3 linked regions of the Homo sapiens genome follow. The protein of the gene in region 3 purifies or fractionates together with the protein of the main gene of each other region. This does not show direct contact. Each region holds a gene or a part of one and is shown on either strand. Other genes may lie near its edges. The genes, in order: ECI2, ABHD18 and PRIMPOL.

What was found.
Region 1: the proteins of PRIMPOL (region 3) and ECI2 purify together in Homo sapiens (affinity purification with mass spectrometry; 2 studies listed by BioGRID and IntAct, with this or other methods). This does not show direct contact.
Region 2: the proteins of PRIMPOL (region 3) and ABHD18 purify together in Homo sapiens (affinity purification with mass spectrometry; 2 studies listed by BioGRID and IntAct, with this or other methods). This does not show direct contact.

What each region holds. Positions count from the first base shown.
Region 1 is NC_000006.12:4,118,053-4,126,327, forward strand, and holds part of ECI2 (enoyl-CoA delta isomerase 2), read right to left. Parts: intron 8,186-8,275; coding exon 8,083-8,185; intron 8,068-8,082; exon of another isoform or gene 7,319-8,067; coding exon 7,198-7,318; exon of another isoform or gene 6,908-7,197; intron 3,995-6,907; exon of another isoform or gene 3,897-3,994; intron 1,224-3,896; coding exon 1,134-1,223; intron 1-1,133. UniProt on the Homo sapiens protein: Able to isomerize both 3-cis and 3-trans double bonds into the 2-trans form in a range of enoyl-CoA species. Has a preference for 3-trans substrates.
Region 2 is NC_000004.12:128,030,701-128,038,975, reverse strand, and holds part of ABHD18 (protein ABHD18), read right to left. Parts: exon of another isoform or gene 7,200-8,275; intron 3,215-7,199; coding exon 3,163-3,214; 3' UTR 1-3,162.
Region 3 is NC_000004.12:184,686,463-184,694,737, reverse strand, and holds part of PRIMPOL (DNA-directed primase/polymerase protein), read right to left. Parts: intron 3,423-8,275; coding exon of another isoform or gene 3,384-3,422; intron 3,240-3,383; coding exon 3,157-3,239; intron 3,073-3,156; coding exon 3,026-3,072; intron 654-3,025; exon of another isoform or gene 529-653; coding exon of another isoform or gene 445-528; exon of another isoform or gene 217-444; coding exon 1-216. UniProt on the Homo sapiens protein: DNA primase and DNA polymerase required to tolerate replication-stalling lesions by bypassing them.

The sequences.
Region 1 (8,275 bases), on a different chromosome or scaffold from region 3:
CAGAGTCTCACTGTGCTGCCCAGGCTGGAGTGCAGAGGCACGATCTTGGCTCACTGTAACCTCCACCTCCTGGGTTCAAATGATTCTCCTGCCTCAGCCTCTTGAGTAGCTGGGATTACAGGTGCCCGCCACCATGCCCCGGCTAATTTTTGTATTTTTAGTAGAGACAGCATTTCACTATGTTGGCCCGGCTGGTCTTGAACTCCTGATCTCAAGTGATCCACCAGCCTTGGCCTCCCAAAGTGCTGGGATTACAGGTGTGAGCCACTGCACCCAGCCAAGGAATGCTCTAATAGCCAAATGCTCTAAGACTTGTAGAGTCAGTTCTGCCCCCTTCCCAAGTTCAATTCAGGGTATGTGATAGCCTAATGAGAGTAAAAACATACATATATAAGTTTTTAACAAAATCCTAATAGGCAATGAAAACAAGCTCAATTCCCACTGCCCCACTTTGAGATCTTGCAGCAATATTTGCTAAGCCTTTTCCTATAGCTCAGCTTCTGGTCTTGTCACAATCCCCTTCGAGTCATGCCACAGGGCGTGGGCAACTAGGAAACACAGTGAAAGACCTGAGCAGCCACTTAACCAGCCTGGGAGAGAATACACCCGTGAGCAGGCTGATGGAAGGGCTGCTGTGATTGGGGGTGGCTCTGGCAGCCGTGAGCCCCCACAAAACCTCCCATCTGTTGGTACTTACTGTAACTCTGAAAGTGAAGACGTCATCATGTCTCTCCTTAGGAGATACTGGTCATCCATAAAGGAACCGAGTGGCCTCCAAACTCAGGGGACCAAGGGAGGCTGGCACAGCCCTGGTCCTTCAAGTGACTAATGCCACACAGCTGCAAGGCTGAGGTGCTGTGCTGCTTGCAGTGCAGCTAGCACTAAGCAGCCAGCTGAAGAGGAGGATCCCAGTTCTGGGAACTGCAGAGAGAATTTCTAATTTTCCTGCATAGCAGATACTTCCCATAGCCTGATTCCTCCATTGGTAAAACTCTTAAAGAGTTGAAAAGCAAATCATTAGCTTCTCTTTTGTCCATATTACCAAGGGAAAGAAGGGAGAGTATATGAGATTACTCTTCCTTCTTTCTTGAGATGACTCATAAAATTTTATATTTAAACATTCCAAAAGTTACCTTGGCTGGGCTCATTATCTTCGGAAAAGTGTAAGAGGAGCATCCTTCCGGACTTTGGCCTAGGTGACTAAATGGTGTATGAAATGTTGCCTGCAGAGGCAGGAGAGAAAAGAAAACCATCTTTTCATGTGTGATTTTTTTTTTTTTTTTTGAGACAAAGGGTTTCGCTCTTTTGCCCAGGCTGCAGTGAAGTGGCGCGATCTCGGCTCACTGCAACCTCCACCCCTTGGGTTCAAGCGATTCTCCTGCCTCAGCCTCCACAGCAGCTACGATTACAGGCATGCGCTGCCATGCCTGGCTAATTTTTGTATTTTTCGTAGAGACGGGGTTTCGCCCTGTTGGCCAGGTTGGTTTCAAACTTCTTACCTCAGGTGATCCACCTGCCTCGGCCTCCCAAAGTGCTAGGATCACAGGCGTGAGCCACCATGCCTGGCTTCATGTGTTATTTTTAAAAATCACGATTTGCTTATAACTTCACAATACTTAATAATATTTATTTAAAAATTAAGATTATGTGGTTAATATGCACACACAATTCACCCTTTAAAAGTGTATAGTTGGATGAGTTTGAACAAATAGAGAGTTACATAGCCACCACCACTACTGACATGCGGAACATTTCAGCCACCCTGAAAGGTTCCGGGGGCCCTTCTGTAGTCAGTCCCTCCCTCCCACCCCCAAGCAACTGCTAATCTGTTTTCTGTCCCTACAGTTTTGACTTTTATAGAATGCTGTATAAGTGGAATCCTACATTCTGTAGCATTTTGAGTCTGACTTCTGAGAGTCACCATGCTGTTGTATGTATTAGTAGTTTGTTCCTCGCTATTTCTGAGTAGTATTCCTTTGTATGGATGCACAATAATATGTTTATCATTCACCAGTTAATGCCATTGGTGTTGTTTCTAGCATTCAAATGGTTGTACCATTTGACACTGCCACTAGCAACGTATGAAAGGCTACTATGAAGAAGGCTGCTATGAAAAACAAGTTGAACACCTTAAATATATCTAGTCGTGTGTTGCTTAACAATGGGGATATGTTCTGAGAAATGCATAATTAGGCAATTTTGTCATTGTGCCAATATCATGGAGTATACTTACATATACTTGGATGCCACAGCCTACTGCACACCTAGCTATGTGGTAATCCCTACTGCTTCCAGGCTACCAACTTGGACAGCATGTTACTATACTTAATACTCTAGGCAGTTATAACAAATGGCATTTGTGTATCTAAATATATCAAACATAGAAAAGGTAGGCCGGGTGTGGTGGCTCATGCCTGTAATCCCAACACTTTGGGAGGCAGAGGTGGGCAAATCACCTGAGGTCAGCAGTTCGAGACCAGCCTGGCCAACGTAGTGAAACCCCATCTCTACTAAAAATACAAAAATTAGCCTGGTGTGGTGGTGTGCACCTGGAGTCCCAGCTACTCGGGAGGCTGAGGCACAAGAATTGCTTGAACCCGGGAGGAGGAGGCTGCAGTGAGCCGAGATCATGCCACTGTACTCCAGCCTGGATGACAGAGTGAAAAAAAAAAAAGAAAAGGTATAGTAAGATATGGTGTTATAATCTTAGGAGACCAGCGTTTTACATGCAGTCTGCCATTGACTAAAATGTTGTTATGCAGCACCTGACTGTACAATTCTTATTTGTCAAGTATACCTCAATGAAACTGAAAAAAAATTTAAAAATAAAAATGTTCAGATAATGTTAACAAAAAGGCAGTTAGGAACACTTGTGTACAGGTCACTGGGTGAATCTCTTTTAAATTATCATAGGTAAATACCTAAGTGGTATGGCTGGTCTGTGTGGTAAATGTATATTTAGCTCAGAAGCTGCTAGACTGTTTTCTAGAGTGGTTGTACCATTTGACATTCCCACCAGCAATGTATGAAAGTTCCAATTGCTCCACATCCTCACTAAACCTAGCTATTAAGTCTTTTTCATTTTAACCATGCTAGTATGTATGTAGTGGGGTCTCACTGTGGTTTTAATTTACATGTCCCTAACCATTAATGGTATTAAGTCTCTTACCATGTACTTATTAGACATACGTATATTTTCTTTGGTGAAGCAACTGTTAAGATATTTTCTCCACTATTTTTTTAAGTTAGGCTGTTTACCTTCCTATTATATAGTTGTAAGATACACATTCAGATTGCAAGTCTTTTATTAGAGCGTCAGGCAAATCTTTTCTCCTGGTCTATGGCTTATCTTTTCATTTTCTCAGTGGTTTCTCTCATATGGTTTTAATAGCCCTTTATATTTCATTTTGTCTGACCTATTCATTCCTCACCATTGCCCATTTTTATTTTAGCTTGTGGATCTATCGCTTTATAGACAAACTTTAAAAAGTATCGTGGAGAGATCAGCTTTTGTTACATGAGTTGAAAAATTGTTTCCTCAATCTGTCATTTGTCTTGATTTTGCCCCAGTGGTTTTTTTGGTTGGCTTTAACTACTGGAATTAATTCAATATTGGTTATTTAGTATATAGTCATTTTTAGTTTTTTTTTTTTTTACATTTAAGACATATTTTTGTGTTTCTTAATGAATAAATTATGAAAGAATGTTAATTTAAAATTCATAATATGTAAAAGAATATTTAGATTTCATTTCCTATAATCAGACACGCTGTTGTTTTTACTATATAACTGTTAGAAGATATAAATCTATAACATATGCAGCATATACATAAAAATAATCACAATATTTTTAAAAGTTTCTGTTAATGTCATGTATCTTCTTTTTTTATCCAAAAGAAAACTTATTCAAAAAAATGTACCCAGAAGACACAGCCTAAGGAATACAAGCAGGAAACTGAGAAACCTGCCAACAACAGCTAAAGGGACACAAACAGGTACATGCAAAGTTGCCAGTAAGCAGCATTTAAAATGCTGATTTTCAGAAAGAGAGCAGCAGGTGGAGTTAAGGGTTTAGGCTCTGGCGTCAGACTACTTAGGGACGTTGGGAAAGTTTCTTACCCTCTCTGTACCACAGTTTTCTCATTTGTAAAATGGGAACCAATCCTTCTTTGCTTTTTTTTTTTTTTGAGACGGAGTCTTGCTCGGTTGCCCAGCCTTGAGTGCAGTGGCGCAATCTCAACTCGCTGCAACCTCCGCCTCCCGGGTTCAAGCGATTCTCCTGCCTCAGCCTCCCGAGCAGTTGGGATTATAGGCGTGCACCACCACACCCAGCTCATTTTTGTATTTTTAGTAGAGACGGGGCTTCACCATGTTGGCCAGGCTGGTCTCGAATTCCTGACCTCAAGTGATCCACCTGCCTTGGCCTCCCAAAGTGCTAAGATTACAGGCATGAGCCACCATGCCCAGCCTAGATTGTAAAACTTATTTTTGCCACATTGGAGGAGAATGTTTGTTTTTATAGACAGGGTCTCACTCTGTTGCCCAGCCTTACTCTTGCCTCAGCCTACCAAGTAGCTGGGACTACAGGCGCCTGCCACCACACCTGGCTAATTTTTGTATTTTTAGTAGAGAAGGGGTTTCACCACATTGGCCAGGCTGGTCTTGAACTCCCGACCTCAGGTGATCCACTTGCCCTGGCCTCCCAAAGTGCCAGGATTAGAGGCGTGAGCCACTGTGCCTGGCCAAGTCCTTCTTTCATCGGGCTACTCTGTACATTACGTGAATATGTGTGTGTGTATGCGTATATTTATAATATACATAATGCATGTGAATAGAGTGCCTAAACAGTGACCACTCAAAGATTTATTATTGTTATGATTTCTACCTTTTTCTTAACTCATACAGGAAATGTATCATTTGCTGACAGAGCTAATAGGCATTATTAACCATTGCCCACAGTATAAAATAGATTAAATGTACTGATTAATATTTTGGTTATATGGGTTAAATATTAACCCATCATTTAATATGATATTTATTCTTGAAGCCAATAATGGTAAATCTTATAAAACAATTTTTTCTACAGCCTTTTCCTTTAGCATATTTCCTTTATTTTATTTATTTTTTACTTATATATTTTTTTGAGACAGAGTCTCGCTCTGTCACCTAGGCTGGAGTGCAGTGGTACGATCTCGGCTCACTGCAACCTCTACCTCCTGGGTTCAAGCAATTCTCCTGCCTCAGCCTCCAATGTAGCTGGGATTACAGACACCCGCCACCAAGCCCGGCTAATTTTTATATTTTTAGTAGAGATGGTGTTTCACCATGTTGGCCAGGCTGGTCTTGAACTCCTGACCTCAGGTGATCTGCCCACCTCAATTTCCTTTATTTTAAATGATGCTTGATTTGTTTGGTTGGGTAAACTTTTATCAGAAGACACTATTTGACAAATAAATTTTACTTTTGGCCAAATTTTTTAGCATTTAATATATATATGCAATATACATATATTATAATATATATAGAATAGATATGTTTTATATGTATTATGTATATATGTTTTCTGATTTCAACATTTATTACAATTTATATCATAAGATGGAAGTCATCAACATTTTTAAAAGGTTGATGCAGGCCAGGCTCAGTGGCTCACACCTGTACTCCCAGCACTTCAGGAGGCCAACGCAGGCGAATCACTTGAGGTCAGGAGTTCGAGACCAGCCTGGCCGACACAGTGAAACCCTGTCTCTACTAAAAATACAAAAAAATTAGCTCGATGTGGTGGCACGCACCTGTACTACTCAGGAGGCTGAGTGGGAGAATCGCTTGAACCCGGGAGGTGGTGGCTGCAGTGAGCCAAGATCGTGCCACTGCATTCCAGCTTGGGTGACAGAGTGAGACTCCCATCTCTTAAAAAAAAAAAAATAAGGATGATGTATATTGAAAGTAATTTTCAATTCAGTGGGAGAATCAGAACAAGATTCAAATACAATATTTGCCCTCCAAGTATTAAAGAATGAGATCCCCAATTTTAGGTCAGGAACCATTGACCCAGTCCCTGTTAAAAGCAGGTCAATGACTAATCAGTCATCTAATACACAGACTGTGAACAAAGACATTGATTTCTGCCTTTGAACAGAAACCTCTACCTACAAAGGCTGGGCAGCCTGGCACCTAGAATCTCATTTGCTAATTTTGTGGGAAAATTATTCATAAGAATTAGGTCTGTCAATACATCCAATCTGGTTCAATGGAATCCAGCAAAAGAAAATTCGAAGAATTAAGGATGCTATTATATGGTCCTGTCTATCAGTGGGGAAAATACCTCTGAACAAAACTAGAAATCTCTTCAGTGGTAAAAACCATATGCTCCCTAGAAGGCTGCAATCATCAGCACAGTTTACCATCACATAAGCATAAGTCACTGGACAATCTGATACCCTAAAGGTGGTTATTAGGTGCTTGTAATGATAAAAATTGGAAACAGCCTAGGGTTCCAGCAGTCAGGGACTGGTTAAACAAGATAAGTTAATAACCCAAACGTTAGGACTGGTTATCTCTAGGTGGCAAGATAAGGAGTGATTTTTACCTTGTAGCTTTTCTTGGTACTTTTTCATATCTTTCAAAATTTTATTTTCCACTATGACATATATATTACTACTGTAGTAAAAATAAAAACTAAAATCTGTATAATGCAATGGTGAACACAAGGCTGAATTGTGTTCTGGGCAAGGAACTTCTCAGAGCTTCAGTTTTCTTATCTGCAAAGGAGGGAGTGACAGTAGATAATGCTCACAGGTCCTTCTCCTTCTAAAATTCTAAATCCATTTACTCAGTAAAAAGGATCAACTAATCCCTTGCACAACCTGCAAAGATGCTATTCCTCCCTCCCATAACAAATTTTCAAGTGTCTCCTGAATCTTTCAGAATAACATGAAAGCTGTATACCTATTGTGGAATTTGATTAGAATCCGGAACAGTCAGAGTTGGAACAATGTTCACAACAAAATGCAAGTTAATAATGAAGGAAAAATAAAATCAGTCAAATCAGCCTAATGCTTTGGGAAAAATCTAAATTCAGTTAATTCTACCACAAACAACATGTAACCTGCTTATGACTGGCAACGCTGAAGGAGGATTCAAAGGCTCTCATCTCGCGCTGCTTGCCTGACCTCTTGCTTTCTAGGAGCTGACTTACCCTGTCAGATGCATACACGGCATCGAATAGCCCAAGGAGGGTGACGGAGATGCCCACAGCTGGACCATTGACCACTGCAATCAGAGGCTTAGGAAAATCTATAAAACAGCCCACAAATTCCCTACAGAAATGGAAACACAAAATCATTAAATGTGCCAAAGCAGCATGACTAAAGCATGGGCAAGACAGTCTGACTCTGAGATAAAGCCTTCTGTCAGGCTGGGTGTTTCCACAGCCACCACCAGCAGTGCCTCCTTGTCCTGCCACTTCCCTGGTCTTCCGCACCAGATTCATCCAGGGCATCCGTCTGAATGGCAGTGGATGGAAGACCAACCAGTGAGACCTATGGGTCAACCCTGGTTTGAATCTTGTATTCTGGACAGTGAGTTCAGGGCTGTAAACCAGCCGCAGTCTTAGAGATTAGGTTGGGTGACTGAGCACATGCTGCAATATCACAACAAGTGGGAATTACAGATTTGGCAGGAATAAAGAGAAAAGCCTTCATGACCTCCTCCTGTGTTTACAAGACTCCTCCGAGTCTCCTACCTTCAGCGTTCATGGAAATCTCCCATTCCTCTGGCTGGATGAGAATTTGCTAAATTCCTCTGCCTCAGTGCAAGATAATTTTGTTTACAACTATAGCTCACTTTTATGTTTTCCAGTCAAATCTCATGAGACCAGCAGGATGAACAGGTAACAGAGGTCAAAGAGAAAGAATGAATGCCCACCTATGGATGGAGGCAGTTTAGAGAAATATGCTTGTCCAAAGTCACAATTAACTGCACTGACACAGAGAAGCAGATATTGCACTTTTGCTCAACTAAATACCACTTTGATGACTAAGAACGGGCCCTCTGGGATCAGACAAAGGTCAGTAACTCTTACCTCAGTAAAACGGCATTATTTTTAGCTTTCTCCTCTACTCCACCAGGGGGAATATCAGTGAAGTTAGTCAGATCATTCCCACTACTGTAATAGTCACCATTTCCTATAAGTAAGAAAATCAACAGATCCCTCATTCAATCATCCTATAATTCTTGAGTATCTACTGCATGCCAAACTCTATGGTTAGGCAAGG
Region 2 (8,275 bases), about 57 Mb from region 3:
GAAAAGTTATTTTGCACTTTGAATTCTTCAACTGAGGTAGTTTTAGGGATATATATATATTTTTTGAGACAGAGTTTTGCTCTTGTTGCCCAGGCTGGAGTGCAATGGCACAATCTCGGCTTACTGCAACCTCCGTCTCCCGGGTTCAAGCGATTCTCCTGGCTCAGCCTCCTGAGTAGCTGGGATTACAGGCATGTGCCACCACGCCTGGCTAATTTTGTATTTTTTTTAAAAATTTTGTATTTTTAATAGAGATGGGGTTTCTCCATATTGGTCAGGCTAGTCTCGAACTCCCAACCTCAGGTGGTCCCCCCACCTCGGCCTCCCAAAGTGCTGGGATTACAGGTGTGAGCCACTGCACCCGGCCTAGGGATATATTCTTAAAACATCTGGTTAAGAGATGAAATTTTAAAAATACTTTCTTTCACACTTTATTTGAGAAAAGTTAGTTATGCCTAAGAATTAAAACTAAATCAACATTTCATTTTTTTAACAATAGAAATTCACACAACATAGTACATTATTGCTTAGTAAGAAATGTTTATGTGAACAATAATAAAGTATTTGTTTTACTAAAACCATTGTTCAAAAAGCATTCAATCATATAACCTCACTATATACATAATATAAGAAAATCGTAATTCAGTTGACAAGTTTTATTTTAAAAAGTATTTTGTGGAAGAACTTTAGTAGATGTTATACTTTTGGTTAAAACTAAAGGTTCTCATCTGAACATGTAAAATTGCTTATAGCTCAAAGAGCTGTACAGTGTTGGCTTGTTATGCCAAAGTAGTTTGAAAGAAGTTACTACTTTGTCTACCATCAATAACTTCACATTAATAATTTTTAAATATTTGTAAAAAATTAAGATGATAGAGGCATAGAGGTGACAAATGAAATCTCCTTTAAAAAGACTGCAAAGGCACATTATAATTCAAATATCGTTAGTAGACTAAGAATCCCTATTTAAAAATAATTCACAGACAACACAGATTTCAAACAAAACTCAAAAATACCTACTGTAAAACTTCACACAATACCCTAAAATATTTTCGACTTTTTTAACATTTTAGCTGACAGCTAGAGAAGTTTAACATAAAAAGAAAGCACCAAATCGAGCCATATAAACCCCATTTAAGAGAGTTAATAGCTATTACATAAAACTTTAAATATTTTCTGTAAAATAAAGTTTATATGGGACAAATCAATTGCATATGTGTCTATTAAATTTTGAAATTAAAAGCCAAGGCTGTTAAGTATTTGGGTAGTTAGATGGTTAGCAATCCAAAGAATAAGCATATAGAAAAATGTAATTAAAAAAATAAAAATAAAATGTCAGGTCGGGTGTGGTGGCTCAAACCTATAATCCCAGCACTTTGGGAGGCCAAGGCAGGCATATCACTTGAGGTCAGGAATTCGAGACCAGCTTGGCCAACATGGTGAAACCTCGTGTCTATTAAAAATACAAAAATTAGCCAGGCATGGTGGCGGGCACCTGTAATCTCAGCTACTCAGGTGGAGGCAGGAGAACCGCTTGAACCTGAGAGGCGGAGGTCGCAGTGAGCCAAGATCATGCCACTGCACTCCGTCAGTTAATGCAACAGGTCTTCCAATGTTTCCATTTTTGTGAATTGAAACTTTTTAGTAGGGAGAAATAAGTTTGGCATTTTGTTTTGTTTTGAGACAGAGTCTTGCTCCTTCTCCTAGGCTGGAGTGCAGTGGTGCGATCTCCGCTCACTGCAACTTCTGCCTCCCGGGTTCAAGCAATTCTCCTGCCTCAGCCTCCCGAGTAGCTGGGATTACAGGTGCCTGCCACCATGCCCGGCTTAATTTTTTTTTTTTTTTTTTTTTTTTTTTGAGATGGAGTTTTGCTCTGTTGCCCAGGCTGGAGTGCAGTGGCGCAATCTCAGCTCAGTGCAACCTCCGCCTCCTTGGTTCAACCAATTCTCCTGCCTCAGCCTCCTGAGTAGCTGGGATTACAGGCACACGCCACAATGCCCGGCTAATTTTTTTGTACTTTTAGTAGACATGGGGTTTCACCATGTTGGCCAGGCTGGTCTTAAACTCCTGACCTTGTGATCCGCCCGCCTGAGCGTCCCAAAGTGCTGGGATTACAGGCATGAGCCACTGCACCCGGCCTATTGGCATTTTTTAAAAACCCTAATCTTTAGTAAAGTTTTAGTCTAGCAAAGTCTAATGCATTTTATCTGCAGAACACTCATTTTGGTTATTATTATTATTTTGAGACGGAGTTTCACTCTTGTTGCCCAGGCTGGAGTGCAATGGTGTGATCTCGGATCACCGCAACCTCTGCCTCCCGGGTTCAAGCGATTCTCCTGCCTCTGCCTCCTGAGTATCTGGGATTATAGGCATGCGCCACCATGCTTGGCTAATTTTTTGTATTTGTAGTAGAGAGGGGGTTTCTCTATATTGGTCAGGCTGGTCTTGAACTCCCAACCTCAGGTAATCTGCCCGCTTCAGCATCCCAGTGCTGGGATTACAGGCGTGAGCCACCGCACCCTGCCACTCACTTTGATTATTAAAAGCACTTACATTCAAGTAGAGGTACATGTTAAAAGAAAAAAAAAAGAAAAAGAAAAGCACTTATCTATGAAGCTATCAGGATATTTTAGAATTCAAAGTTAACACTGATTTTATATATCATAAGTATTTATTTCCACAGCAGAAAATTAGTTGAACACAAGAACATTCAAAAAATAAACATGTTTCTCAAATCAAGTCAAGAGTGAAATGTTATAAGGGTACAAAGTAAATGCTGATATATTAAAATCTTGGTTTGATTTAGCAATTTTACTAAAACCCAGAAAAGTTTCTATGAATAAATTTATTTAATTTAATAAATTATTCATGATTAAAAATTTAGTTTTTCATAAACAGTAACAACAGACTAAACACTGAATATATGGGATTCCAATAAACAATAGTAAAAACACTTTAACATTATTTACTTCAAATATTATCTTGAAATTATTCAAATGTATTCGAAGTTTATAGTTAACTGATGTGTAACAATGAATTCCAGACCAAATTGATAGCGATTAGATATATTAGTGCTGTCTGCTTGTCCTTCACATGATCACAGGATGAAGCTCCCTTTTGTAAGAAACATCATGGCCACACTGGTTACATATAATAATCCAACTAGTTAGCGTATTTATGGAGGAAGCGGTCAAATGCATCATAGATGGCTTGTCTAAAATTAAATATGAAAGAAAAACTCTAAGTAACTAACAAAAAGGGGGGACAAACAATGCCTTTACTGTAAGTTATTTCCAAATTTATCTGTGGCTTGCAACTTGACATCCTCTCTAAATAGCTATGAAATAGGCAGTTACCCTCCCCAGAATGGGTGTTTGAATCCATGTAACTTTTTTTTTTCTTTTGAGACAGGGTCTCGCTCTGTCGCCCAGGCTGGACTGCAGTGGCATGATCTCTGCTCACTGCAACCTCTGCCTCCCGGTTCAAGTGATTCTCATGCCTCAGCCTCCCAAGTAGCTAGAATTACAGGCATGCACCACCTCACCCTGCTAATTTTTTGTATTTTTAGTAGAGACGGGGTATCACCATGTTGGCTAGGCTGGTCTCGAACTCCTGGCCTCAAGTGATCCGCCTGCCTCAGATGCATGCAACTTTACCACCACTACCGGAAAACCTCAAATATACTTCCAATTTATGAGGGATCTAAAAGCATTATCTTTTTCTGAAGCACTTTTTGTGCCTTAGAATATATATATTCATACATACACGCACGCACACAGAGGCACATGTGTGTAATGTGTATAAAATAAATTATGAAAGAAAAAGGAACTGATTTATTGTCTTATCGCTTCGTTGAAAATTAATTATGTAACTTTTCAGAATGTAAGATTCTGTTTCACAGATTATGATATAGATGTTTTTCATTTACTATGAACATGTTCCTAGCTACTTAAAATCAAAAGCCTTGGTTTCTCACATTAACTTTACCAAGTATTTTAATATTTCAATTGAAAAGGAATAGACAGGCCGGGCGCGATGGCTCAAGCCTGTAATCCCAGCACTTTGGGAGGCCGAGGCAGGCGGATCACCTGAAGTCGGGAGTTTGAGACCAGCCTGATCAACATGGAGAAACCCCGTCTCTACTAAAATTACAAAAAATTAGCCGGGTGTGGTGGCACATGCCTATAATCCCAGCTACTCGGGAGGCTGAGGCAGGAGAATTGCTTGAACCTGGGAGGCAGAGGTTGTGTGAGCTGAGATCACACCATTGCACTCCAACCTGGGCAACAAGAGCGAAACTCTGTTTCAAAAAAAAAAGAAAGAAAAAGAAAAGGAATAGACAAATTTTATCTTCCATAAGATATTTTTTCTTTTCTTTTTTCTTTTTTTTTAGAGACAAGATCTCACTATGTTGCCTAGGCTTGAGTGCAGTGGTTACTCTCAGGTGCAATCATAGCACGCTGCAGCCTCAAACTCTTGGCCTCAAGCTATCTTCCCACCTCAGCCTGTTGAGTATCTGGAACTACAGTCCTGCGACACCCTGCCCCACTCATATTTTTTTCTAAAGCTGTTTTTTTCCTATTGTATAATACATTTTTATAGCAGAATATTCAGAAAATCCAAAACATAGGAAGGGGAAAACATCATAATCCCATCACTCACATCTACTGTTAACCTTTTCATATCTTTCCTCCAGGCTTTTAAGAAAATGCATGTCTAGGCCAGGCGCGGTGGCTTACGCCTGTAATCCCAGCACTTTGGAAGGCCAAGGAGGGCGGATCACAAGGTCAGGAGTTCGAGACCAGCCTGGCCAACATGGTGAAACCCCATCTCTACTAAGAATACAAACATTAGCCGGGTGTGGTGGTGGGTGCCTGTAATCCCAGCTACTCGAGAGGCTGAGGCAGGAGAATTGCTTGAACCTGGGAGGCGGAGGATGCAGTGAGCCAAGATCGCGCCACTGCACTCCAGCCTAGGTGACAAGCAAGACTCCAGCTCAAAAAAAAAAAAAAAAAAGAAAAAAGAAAATGCATGTCTATATTTTCACCCAGTTTAAATAACTATCAGATATTAATTTTGTATCCCACTTGTTCAACTAACCATATCCTCACATCCAAACACAGCTATTAAGACTGTCTTTAGCCGGGTGCGGTGGCTCACGCCTGTAATCCCAGAACTTTGGGAGGCCGAGACAGGCGGATCACGAGGTCAGGAGATCGAGACCATCCTGGCTAACATGGTGAAACCCCGTCTCTACTAAAAATAGAAAAAAATTAGCCGGGCGTGGTGGCGGGCGCCTGTAGTCCCAGCTACTGCAGAGGCTGAGGCATGAGAATGCCGTGAACCCAGGAGGTGGAGGTTGCAGTGAGCCAAGATCATGCCACCGCACTCCAGCCTGAGTGACAGAGGGAGACTCTGTCTCAAAAAAGACAAAAAAAAAAAAAAAAAAAAGACTATCTTTGAAACTGATAGCCTGCTAATAGATTATTATTTCCAATATGTTGGGAAGTCATAGTTTTACAACATGCTTGTCTTTCTTTGGCTCAAGTACTTGTTCCCTGTGAATTATAATGAACCATAAGAAGGGAAAAAAATTAGAGGTGGATATTTGCATGTTGGTGTAAACACATAAAGAGATTTTGTTTTGAAGACAGATATGACAGCAATAGGGAAGAAGTAAAGAGGGCTTTGAAATTATTGCCCACTGGATAATTTTTTTTTTGAGACAGAGTCTCACTCTGTCACCCAGGCTGGAGTGCAGTGGTGCGATCTCGGCTCACTGCAAGCTCTGACCTCTGGGTTCACACCATTCTCCTGCCTCAGCCTCTGCAGTAGCTGGGACTACAGGCACCCGCCACCACGCCCAGCTAATTTTTTTCTATTTTTAGTAGAGACAGGGTTTCACCATGTTAGCCAGGATGGTCTTGATCTCCTGGCCTCGTGATCCACCCGCCTCGGCCTCCCAAAGTGCTGGGATTACAGGCGTGAGCCACCACGCCCGGCCCACCCACTGGATAATTTTTTTCCTCAGAGTTAGTTCCAGGCACTTGCTCTTGTGGAATGAATCTGAATTTGTTTACTTCCTGGTGCCAAAAGTTACAATACGGGCTTGTGTACATGTAATGTATGTCCCTTTTTAATCATGTGAATAGTCTCTTATTCACCTGTATTATCAATAAGCTCTAAATAACACAAAATATTAGAGCACATAAAGGAATGGCTTTATTTATTCATTCATTCATTTTTTGAGACAGAGTCTCACTGTCACCCAGGCTGGAATGTAGTGGTGCGATCTCAGCTCACTGCAACCTCTGCCTCCAGGGGGAATGCAGTGGTGCGATAGCTCACTGCAACCTCCACCTCCCAGGTTCAAGCGGTTCTCCTGCCTCAGCCTCCTGAGTAGCTGGGACTATAGGTGCGTGCCCACCACGCCCAGCTAATTTTTGTATTTTTAGTAGAGACGGGGTTTTACCATATTGGCCAGGCTGGGCTCGAACTCCTGATGTCATGATCCACCCGCCTTGGCCTCCTGAAGTGCTGGGATTACAGATGTGAGCCACCGCACCTGGCGGCTTCTTTTATTTTTATGTTTGGTGTGTGAAAAGACTGAATTTTTAAAAATTCTACTATTCCAATGTCATCTAACCTCTGTTAAGTTTTGAAGTGACTGATGGGGAATGGAAGAGGTCAAATAGCTTAGTAGTGACTCCACTTGAGCAAGTTACTTAATCTTTTTTGTTCCCTTTATTCTGTGTAAAGGGGATAATAACAGAGCAATTGCCCTAGCATCTGGCACATGATAATAGTTAACATTTATCTCTCTCAAATGAAGCCTTCATAATAGCACTTTTGTGTTTTTATATTTGACTTTGATTATAAATCTACTCTTCCTAATACGTCTTAGCTATACTCCCACTTAGATACACAAAAGAGTGAAAGAAATTTGATACTAATTTACTAATGCAAGCATGTGGGTCCTCTGCGTTCACATGTATAACAGAACTTTAGACTCTTCTTAAGCAATCCTAGCAACCCTAGGTAGTCACGGATTTTTGTTTATTTGTTTTAATTTTGTTGTGCCAGAGGGCCAATGAGTATTGGATAGTCTGCTCACTCACCAATAGGGACTCAAATGCTGCATGAATACTTCTTAAAAGATCATACTATAAAAAGAAAGGTTTACTATATCCTTCAAGACATGAGAGACTTGAACAATTGGTTTATTTCTAAAAAGGGTGACATTTATAAGTTGGGCTAGATAAGTAACAACATAGAAAAATTATTTCCTCCGTTAACAAGAGCTAAAACATGTCAAACATATCACATACAATTCTTCTATTATATAGCTATCCAGTTGGAAGTTTTTTTTAACACTTATGTACAGGGCACTGATCTAACCATTTATGTGAATCAATTTACTTAATCATTAATAATAACATGAGGAATATGTTTCAATAATGCAGAATACCAGAAAATTATAGTTTTAGCATAAAAAAATTTTTTTTTTTGAGACGGAGTCTCGCTCTGTCTCCCAGGCTGAAGTGCAGTGGCGTGATCTCGGCTCACTGCAAGCTCCGCCTCCCGGGTTTTATGCCATTCTCCTGCCTCAGCTTCCCAAGTAGCTGGGACTACAGACATGCACCACCTATGCCCGGCTACTTTTTTTTTTTTTTTTTTGTATTTTTACTAGAGACGGGGTTTCACCGTGTTAGCCAGGATGGCCTTGATCTCCTGACCTCGTGATACACCCGCCTCCGCCTCCCAAAGTGCTGGGATTACAGGCGTAAGCCACCGCGCCCAGCCAGCATAAAAGTTTTTATAAGTTCTAACTAAAATAGTGGAGTCATATAAGGTTGTTCACATTAAAAGCACTTCTTATTTAAGGTTCAATATTCACTTGCTAACTGAAAAACATTGCTAAATTATTCCACAGATGTTCAGGCCATTCTGAAAAAACATCAGAATAGAGTGAAAAAACTCTTGATGCACCAAAGCAACTTTAACAAGCCATGATCTTCCTTCTCACATCCTAAAATACCTGGCCATTAATATTTGAAGAGGGGAAAGCCACACGATAAAGCATGCCTATAATATGCATCATGCTTAGTTCTCTAGAAGAAAATAAGAAGATCAAATTCTAGGAAAGAGGGAAAAGTAACTCTGTGAGATTTGTGGGAGGTGAGGAGGGAATTCAAAGATTGAAACAGACTATAAAAATATGTGATCTTTTACATTTGTTGAAGCAAAAAATCCAGAAAACAAACAACAAATGAAC
Region 3 (8,275 bases):
ATCCACTTCACTGTTATAACTGAGAAGACTGTTCTCTGCAGCTTCAGCTAATTCAGCATCTTCAGTAGCTTCTAAAAAATAAGCATCATCAATGCCATTATCCCAGACAGCATCAGCAGATGCACCTGTTGACAGCCTGCTAGGTGATGGTTTATGAGGATTCTGGGTTTCATTGCTCCTAGTTTCATCTGCTTCATCTGTTGTAAACTCTTCTTCCTTTATTTCAGTGGTGAAGGGATAGAGAGTGGGATAGGAAAATATTTACTCAGGATATGTGATTTAACCTTATACTCTATGTTGAAGTAAGGTATTAAGTGACAGATACTAAAGTGAATATGCAGGAGGAATGCTGTCTCCGATATCTCACCGTGGGAATGAGTGCACTGATTCAAACGTTGCTGCACTGAAGCTCAGACACACTTGAAACTCCAAATTTGAAATTACCTACAGTTCTGTGCACATACTTTTCAATACTCCCCGACGGAAGAGCAAGGGTGGATTTAATTTTTTAACAAGTGGACAGTCCAGCTGAAGACAAATCAGAAGATAAATTTGCTATCTTGACAATGGACTTAGTACCCATGCTTTAAATTTTAAAGTATTTAGCAAATCGTAAACATGGATTGAAAAAAGATTAAAAACAGTTGCCAAAATATGACTGGATTGTATATTACATAATAGTATTGTATCAATTATTTTACCATAGAATGTCTTCAGTATAGACATTTAGTTGATCCGCCCAATACATTATTTATGTAAAGAATGTCCTTATTCAGTGCAGTGGCACGTGCCTGTAATCCCAGCTACTGGGGAGGCTGAGACGGGAGGACTGCTTGAGGCCAGGAGTTTGAGACCAGCCCGGGCAACATGATACCCCCCTGTCATTAAAAAAGCTACAGAATGTCTTATTCTTTCCGCTACGTGCTTAAATATTAGATGAAGGGTTTTGATGTCTGCAGTTTAAGAGAGTCATCAAAAATAATGCGTATGTATACAGTAGAGGGAGAAAACCAATGTGGCCAAGTGTTAACAAATGGCAGATCTCAATAGAGGACAGACAGCAGAGTTCCTTATTCTTGTACATTTCTGTAGGTTAGGCCTTTATAGTAAATTTAAAATCAAGTGACCAATGAAATATCAGTGCAATAGAAAAGCAGGTATAAATAACACCAACTGGTAATTTAAAATATTTGTTTTAAAAAACAAGATGAAGCAGGAGAGGCAAAATGTTAACTGAAAACTAAGTGACAGCTACATGGGTGTTCATTATATATCTTACTTTAAAAAGTTATGTCCAAGTAGTGGTAATACTGACCAATGGTACTTTCAACTTGGCATTTTTGAGGTGTTACTAGATAAGCGGAAAAAGTAGCTTAAAAATCCACTGCAACCACGAATATCTAAATCACAATCCAGACTAACAAGGGCGATGCAATCCTCCTCCTCTTGGAGACAGTTTATTTTTTAAAATTTACTTTGTTCTTGGTTATTTCAAAACACATTTTAACCTGGTATTTTGCCAGAGAATCTGGCTATCAGTTATTTTATGTCCAGTTCTTGCAGACCAAGAATGGAATTTCCACCATTTCAAACATATGGAGTTTTTTCGAGAGACGTGTTAAGACTGAGTTTTCTAGAATATAAACCCCATCACCTGTTCTGCTTGTAGCAGGTAACTTCTTTTATTCTATTAACACTATAGAGGAGAAAGCTGACAGATGTGACAAAAAACAAAACACAAACTACAATTTAAAAGTGAAATACGTCAAAAACAGTACTTAATTACTGCAAAAAAGTTACAGAAAAATGGACAGAGGACAGGTACAGGCACTTCATTATAGAAATACTAATAGTGAATCCGAAAAAAGTTCATTACAGAGATGCAAATTAAAACAACTGAGGTACTGCATTTTGCCTACCAGATTGGTAGTGATTCGAGGTAAACAAGCACTGCTGGCAAAGTGTGAGGTAATAGGTGCTCTCATAAATTATCTGTGGAGGTCTAATATCCTATACTTTTTATGGAGAGCAATTTGATAATAGGTACTAAAAATATTTGTGATACTTTAGAAAAAAAACTGAAATAGTATGTGTGCTATCACTTCAAAAAAAAAGAAAATGAGCATACATAAATTCTCGAAGGTACGTGCCAAAACGTGTATCATTTATTTCTGGTCAAATGAGTAAGGAAGATTCTTTCCTCTTTGCTTCTTGTGTATTTCCTAATTTTATGTATTTTCTTTCTTTTTTTTTTTTTTTTTTTTTTGAGGCAGAGTCGCTCTGTCTCCCAGGCTGGAGTGTAATGGCGTGATATCAGCTCACTGCAACCTCCACCTCCCAGGTTCAAGGGATTCTCCTGCCTCAGCCTCCTGAGTAGCTGGGATTATAGGCATAGGCCACCACACCTGGCTAATTTTTGTGTTTTTAGTAGAGATGGGGTTTCTCCATGTTGGCCAGGCCGGTCTCAAACTCATGACCTCAAGTGATCTGCCTGCCTCAGCCTCTCAAAGTGCTGGGATTACAGGCCTGAGCCACTGTGCCTGACCTAATTTTATGTATTTTCAATTCATTCTACAATGCACGTTAATTATTTGGGTAAATAAAAAATCTTTAAGAGAAAAATGTTGGTTTGACAACCTGGTAATACCTACCAAAATTAAAACTGAATATGCCCTTTGACACAATTCTACTTCTAGAAATTCATCCTACAGATACAGATGTTCAAAGAAATACAAAGATGGGTATTTTGTTACTTTGAAAAGCAAAATATGGGAAACTTCTTAAATGTCTGGGACTGATTAAACTGTACACCTCAAGCAGCAGTAAAAAAAAAAAAAAAAGGTTTGTATTATCAGATATGTGCTGAAATGGGAAAATCACTACAATATATTCCTATAATACAGTCATAAGTGAAAACAAGGTAGCAAATGGGTTTCAATGCTATTTGGACACTACTCATGGCTCAGGTATACTATTGTACCAAGAACTCCCTGGTAAGGAGAAAGACACTAAAATCTGTACTTACCTCTTTGAAAAGAAACAGGAGACATACTTCAGCAGGTAATGGGAAACCTGAATCAGAAAGATAGCAAAACTATTACATATTACAGTTATCTAATTTTTACTTTGTGGTAAATGTAAAAATTAGTAACTTACAGTCAGATTTGAAGTTTTCTGCTTTACATACAGGGTCATGACATTTTTGATACCAAACTTCATTTTTCAGATCAACCAGAATCCTTTATGTTTAAAAAAAAAAAAAAAGTATTAATACCAAGACTGGGTAGAAAACAAAATCCAGCTGCATGCTGTTCCAAGAAATATGCCTAAGACTTAAAGATGGAGAAAAATTAAAAAGTAAAAGGATAAGGATAGATACATACCAATCAAAACGGTGGTTGCCAAAAATCACACAAAATGAACTGCAGGGCAAAAAGTAGATACTGATGAAAGTTCCCCCAGGAAGATGTAACAATTCTCAACCTGTACTCACCAAATAATACAGCTGCAAAATATGTGAGCAAAAATGGACAGGACCACAATGATAAACAAATCTACCATAAATCAAGGTTTTTAAAAAACATACTCTCAGTAATTTATAGATCAAAGGATAACCACAAAAAAGGTCCAATAAGGATACAGAAAAAATGAATGACAAAAAGCAATTAAGAAGTTTGATCTAATAGGTAAATATGAAGCAGTTCTTTATAAAACCAATTCCATGCTAGCTATAAAGTGAATTTTATCAAATTTAAAATCATCACTTCATACAGAACACATCTGAGCATAAAGCAAATTTTAGAAATAAAACTAATAGAAATCCATAATTTGGAAATTAAGAACAACTTGAAACAACCAATGGTTCAAGGAAAAATAGTGGAAATTAGAAAACGCTTAGACCTGAGTGGACTGGAAGTGTACATATTAAAATATGTGAAATGCAGCTAAAGTCACCTTTAGAGGGTAATTTATAGTCTTAAAATCTTGTGTTATGAAAGAAGAATAGCTAAAGATACATGGATTAAGTGACTAACGTGGAAAACAACGAACTGAATAAAGAGACCAGCCTGGCCAACATAGTGAAACCCCGTCTATACTGAAAATACAAAAATTAGCTGGGCGTGGTGGGGGGCACCTGTAATCCCAGCTACTTGGGAGGCTGAGGCAGGAGAATCACTTGAACCTGGGAGGCGGAGGTTGCAGTGAGCCAAGCTGGTGCCACTGCTCTCCAGCCCGGGTGACAGTGTGAGACTCTGTCTCTAAATAAATAAATAAGTAAATAAATAAATAAAAGGCAGGCAGTCATAAAGAGACAAAAGTAAAAAGAATCAACGAGGCCTACATTTGAAGAAAATGAAATTAGGGTAAAATTGATTTAAAAATAAGGCAAAGACACAAATGTTATTAGAAATTAAATGCATCATATGTTTTTAAGAAAACAATATTGTGAACAACTTTTGCCAGTAACTTTGAAAGTTTTTGTAAAATAAAGTACTACATAAAAATAAACTAAGCAAACTTAAAAAGCAACAGAAAACCTAAACAATCCTATAATCACTAAAATTCTTAAAGATTTGATTAAATAGTTGAAAATGTTCCCACATTTTACAGAAAAGGAAATAAGATGGTTAACACTCCCCATGGCAGTAGGTGAGGTGTGGGATGGGGAGGTGGTAAGGGACCTGCACCCAGGAGCAAAAAAAGGCAGGTGACTTAGTCTAATCTTCCCTTAAACATTCTAGTAACAGGCCTCCCAATTAATGAGCTAATAATGCTGTGGCTCCCAAACTGTACAGGAAGGTGCCCCGGGCACTGCAGGATATTGAAATACTGCTAGAAAACACAGTGATACTTGACATTTCTTGAGCAATCTGAAAACTCCTTGCCTGCAGTTCACATGTGACTTCATTCCTTTCATTCATGCTCCATCTTTGTAGAGCTGGGCTTTGGGGTGTGGTTGTAATAGAAAGCACCATTAACATCAGGCCGGGCATGGTGGCTCGCGCCTGTAATCCCAGCACTTTGGGAGGCCGAGGTGGGTGGATCACAAGGTCAGGAGTTCGAGACCAGCCTGGCCAACATGGTGAAACCGCATCTCTAATAAAAATACAACAAAAATTAGCCAGGCGTGGCGGTGGGCACCTGTAATCCCAGCTACTCGGGGGGCTGAGGCAGGAGAATTGCTTGAAGCCAGGAGGCAGAGGTTGCAGTGAGCCGAGATTGCACCACTGCACTTCAGCCTGGGTGACAGAGCAAGACTCCATCTCAAAAAAAAAAAAAAAAAAAAAAAAGCACCATTAACATCAATGGAGAACAAGGTATGAGTTGGGGAGGGTGGGGTCTAATCTGATTCCAGGGTTTAAGAGTGCATACATAGGCCTGGTGAGGTGGTTCACACCTGTAATTCCAGCATTTTGGGAGGCTGAGGTGGGAGGATAGCTTGAAGGCTGGAGTTCAAGGCCAACCTGGGCAAGAGAGGGAGATCCCACCTACAAAAAATTTAAAAATTAACCAGCCATGGTGGCACACCTGTAGTCTAAACTACGTGAGAGGCTGAAGCAGGAAGATCGCTCAAGCCCAGGAGATCAAGGCTGCAGTGAGCTCCTGCACTCTGTCCTCAAGCCTGGGCCATCACACTGCACTCAAGCCTGGGCGACAGGGCGAGACCCTGTCTCAAAAAAATGAAAAAATGGAGAGTATACATCCCATTAATAAGTAATTGTATTTAAGAATGAAAAGTGGCTTTTTTTTTTAGTTTATGGATACTATTATTCAAACTGCTACTAAACTGTTCGGACATAAACACTTACCAAGTTGTTTGAAATTCATTACCAGAGCTCGGGTATTTCTGTCAGCCTCAGAGAAAATGTGAAGAAACAAAGACACCAGGGGAACCATGAACCAAGAAAATCGGGGAACGTCTGGACCAAACGCTAGGAGTTCAGTCCTTACCTACAGAATGCTCTTCGTAGGACGTTTCTGACTTTAGAACTGCATTTGGTAAAAAGTCTAGAATCAATGCATTATGAGGCATGCTTTCCGGAAATGTCACCCAGCTGTGCAACTTGAGTGTAAAATGCAGGTGATTCACAACCTCGGTGCTTCCTGCTGTGTGCATGGATTGCTCACGCCTGCCTCGGGTTTCCTCCTGAGTCAGAAAGAGCAGGAAGGGCCAGGGGAGCCGGGCCAGATGCCCCGGGCCTCACTCTGCCCCATTTGTGCCTTTTCATTCCTTGTATTCCTACATTATTAGTAAAGCTTGACACTGGGCAAGATTTCTGATCTGTGTGGATGTAATTTGATTATCCATCCTCAACTTCATTAGTAATCAGGGAAATTCCCAAGAAAACTACAATATTGTTTTACATCTGCCAGATGAGCAAAACCAATTTTTTAATCCTAACAATACTAAAGTGTTGGTGAGAATATGGAACAGTAGAAAAATCTCAAAACACTGCTGGCAGGACTATAAACTGGCACACCCATTTGGGAAAACAATTTATGATCTAGTAAAATTAATTATGTGCATATTCCACGACACAGCAAGTCCACTTTGAGAAACTCTAGCACATGTATACTAGGTGATATGTACAACACGGTTCCCACCTTCACGGTTTATAATAGCAACCCAAATGTCCACTGTGGGAAAACAGATAAACTGTGGCCTATTTATATTTATACACATGGCATGCTGCACAATAGTGACACAAATAAGCAACAGCTACATACTGCAACGTGGGTGAAAATCACAGATATGCTACCGCAAGGCAAGGGAGAGGATGCGATTCGAAAACAAGCAAAAGAAAACACTATATTGTTTATGGCCGGGCACGGTGGCTCATGCCTGTAATCCCAGCACTTTGGGAAGCCAAGGCAGGCAGATCACCTGAGGTCGGGAGTTCGAGACCAGCCAGACCAACATGCAGAAACCCCGTCTCTACTAAAAATACAAAAAATTAGCTGGGCATGGTGGCGCATGCCTGTAATCCCAGCTACTCGGGAGGCTGAGGCCGGAGAATTGCTTGAACCCGGGAGACAGAGGTTGCAGTGAGCCGAGATCGTGCGATTGCACCCCAGCCTGGGCGACAAGAGCAAAACTCTGTCTCAAAAAACAAAAGAAAAGAAAAAGAAAACAGTATATTGTTTAGAGATATGAACGTATATGGGAGAAATCATAAAAGCGAGGAAAAGATGAACACAAAATCGGGATACTGGCTACCATCTCTGAGGGCCAGGGAGAGAAGGAAATTGGGGTTGGGCCCACAGGTGCTTCTGAGGTTTGATCAGCTTCTGGTTGTTAAGGTGGGCGGCAGATACAACAGGTGGTCACTTTAGTCTTTAAAATGTGCGTATACAAGTGTGTTATCGGCTGGGTGCGGTGGCTCACACCTGTAATCCCAGCACTTTGGGAGGCCAAGGCGGGCAGATCACTTGAGGTCAGGAGTTTGAGACCAGCCCAGCCAACATAGTGAAACTCCGTCTCTACTAAAATTACAAAAATTAACCGGGCATGGTAGTACACACTTGTAATCCCAGCTACTTGAGAGGCTAAGGCAGGAGAATCACTTGAATCAAGGAAGCGGAGGTTGCAGTGAGCTGAGATCATGCCACTGCACTCCAGCCTGGGCAACGGAGTGAGATTCCATCTCAGAAAATAAAAAAAAGTGTGTTATCTATACTTTTGTATGTATGATATATTCCACGGTTAAAAAACAGAATAGATTATGGAGACATAATACAAGGTGTTATGATCACCATGTAATAATGATTTTTTGGTAAGTTAATACGCATAGAAAAAAGAACAGAAGAAACGTCAACTGATAGCTGCAGTTATGCCCTGGCTGTGGCACTGTATCTCCTTCGTGTTTTCTACGTTATAGCTTTGTGTATTGAGCATATAGTTTTTGCAAGCTTTTTTTAAACTGAATTAATCTAAGTATATCAAGTATGGCACTGAACCATGCTACCCAATGTGTTTCCAGCTTCCCAGCAAGAGCTTCCCGATCATTCCCCATGTCCAGCACACAGGCCGCATATGCTTGAGGATACGGGAGTTGCTTTGACATGAAATAAAAAACAGCAAAATTTCTCACCTCATAACTGATAACTACTGGGTATCTATTTATCTCTATTCTAATCACATCCTTTTATATTTTAAAGTTCTATTTCTGGCTTTACTTCATCCTTTACTTTCCCTCCTCTTCCCATGGGCGTTTTAAAGAAAATCTCTAAAACAGGGCCTGGCATATATAGCAAGCATTCAATAAATACTAGT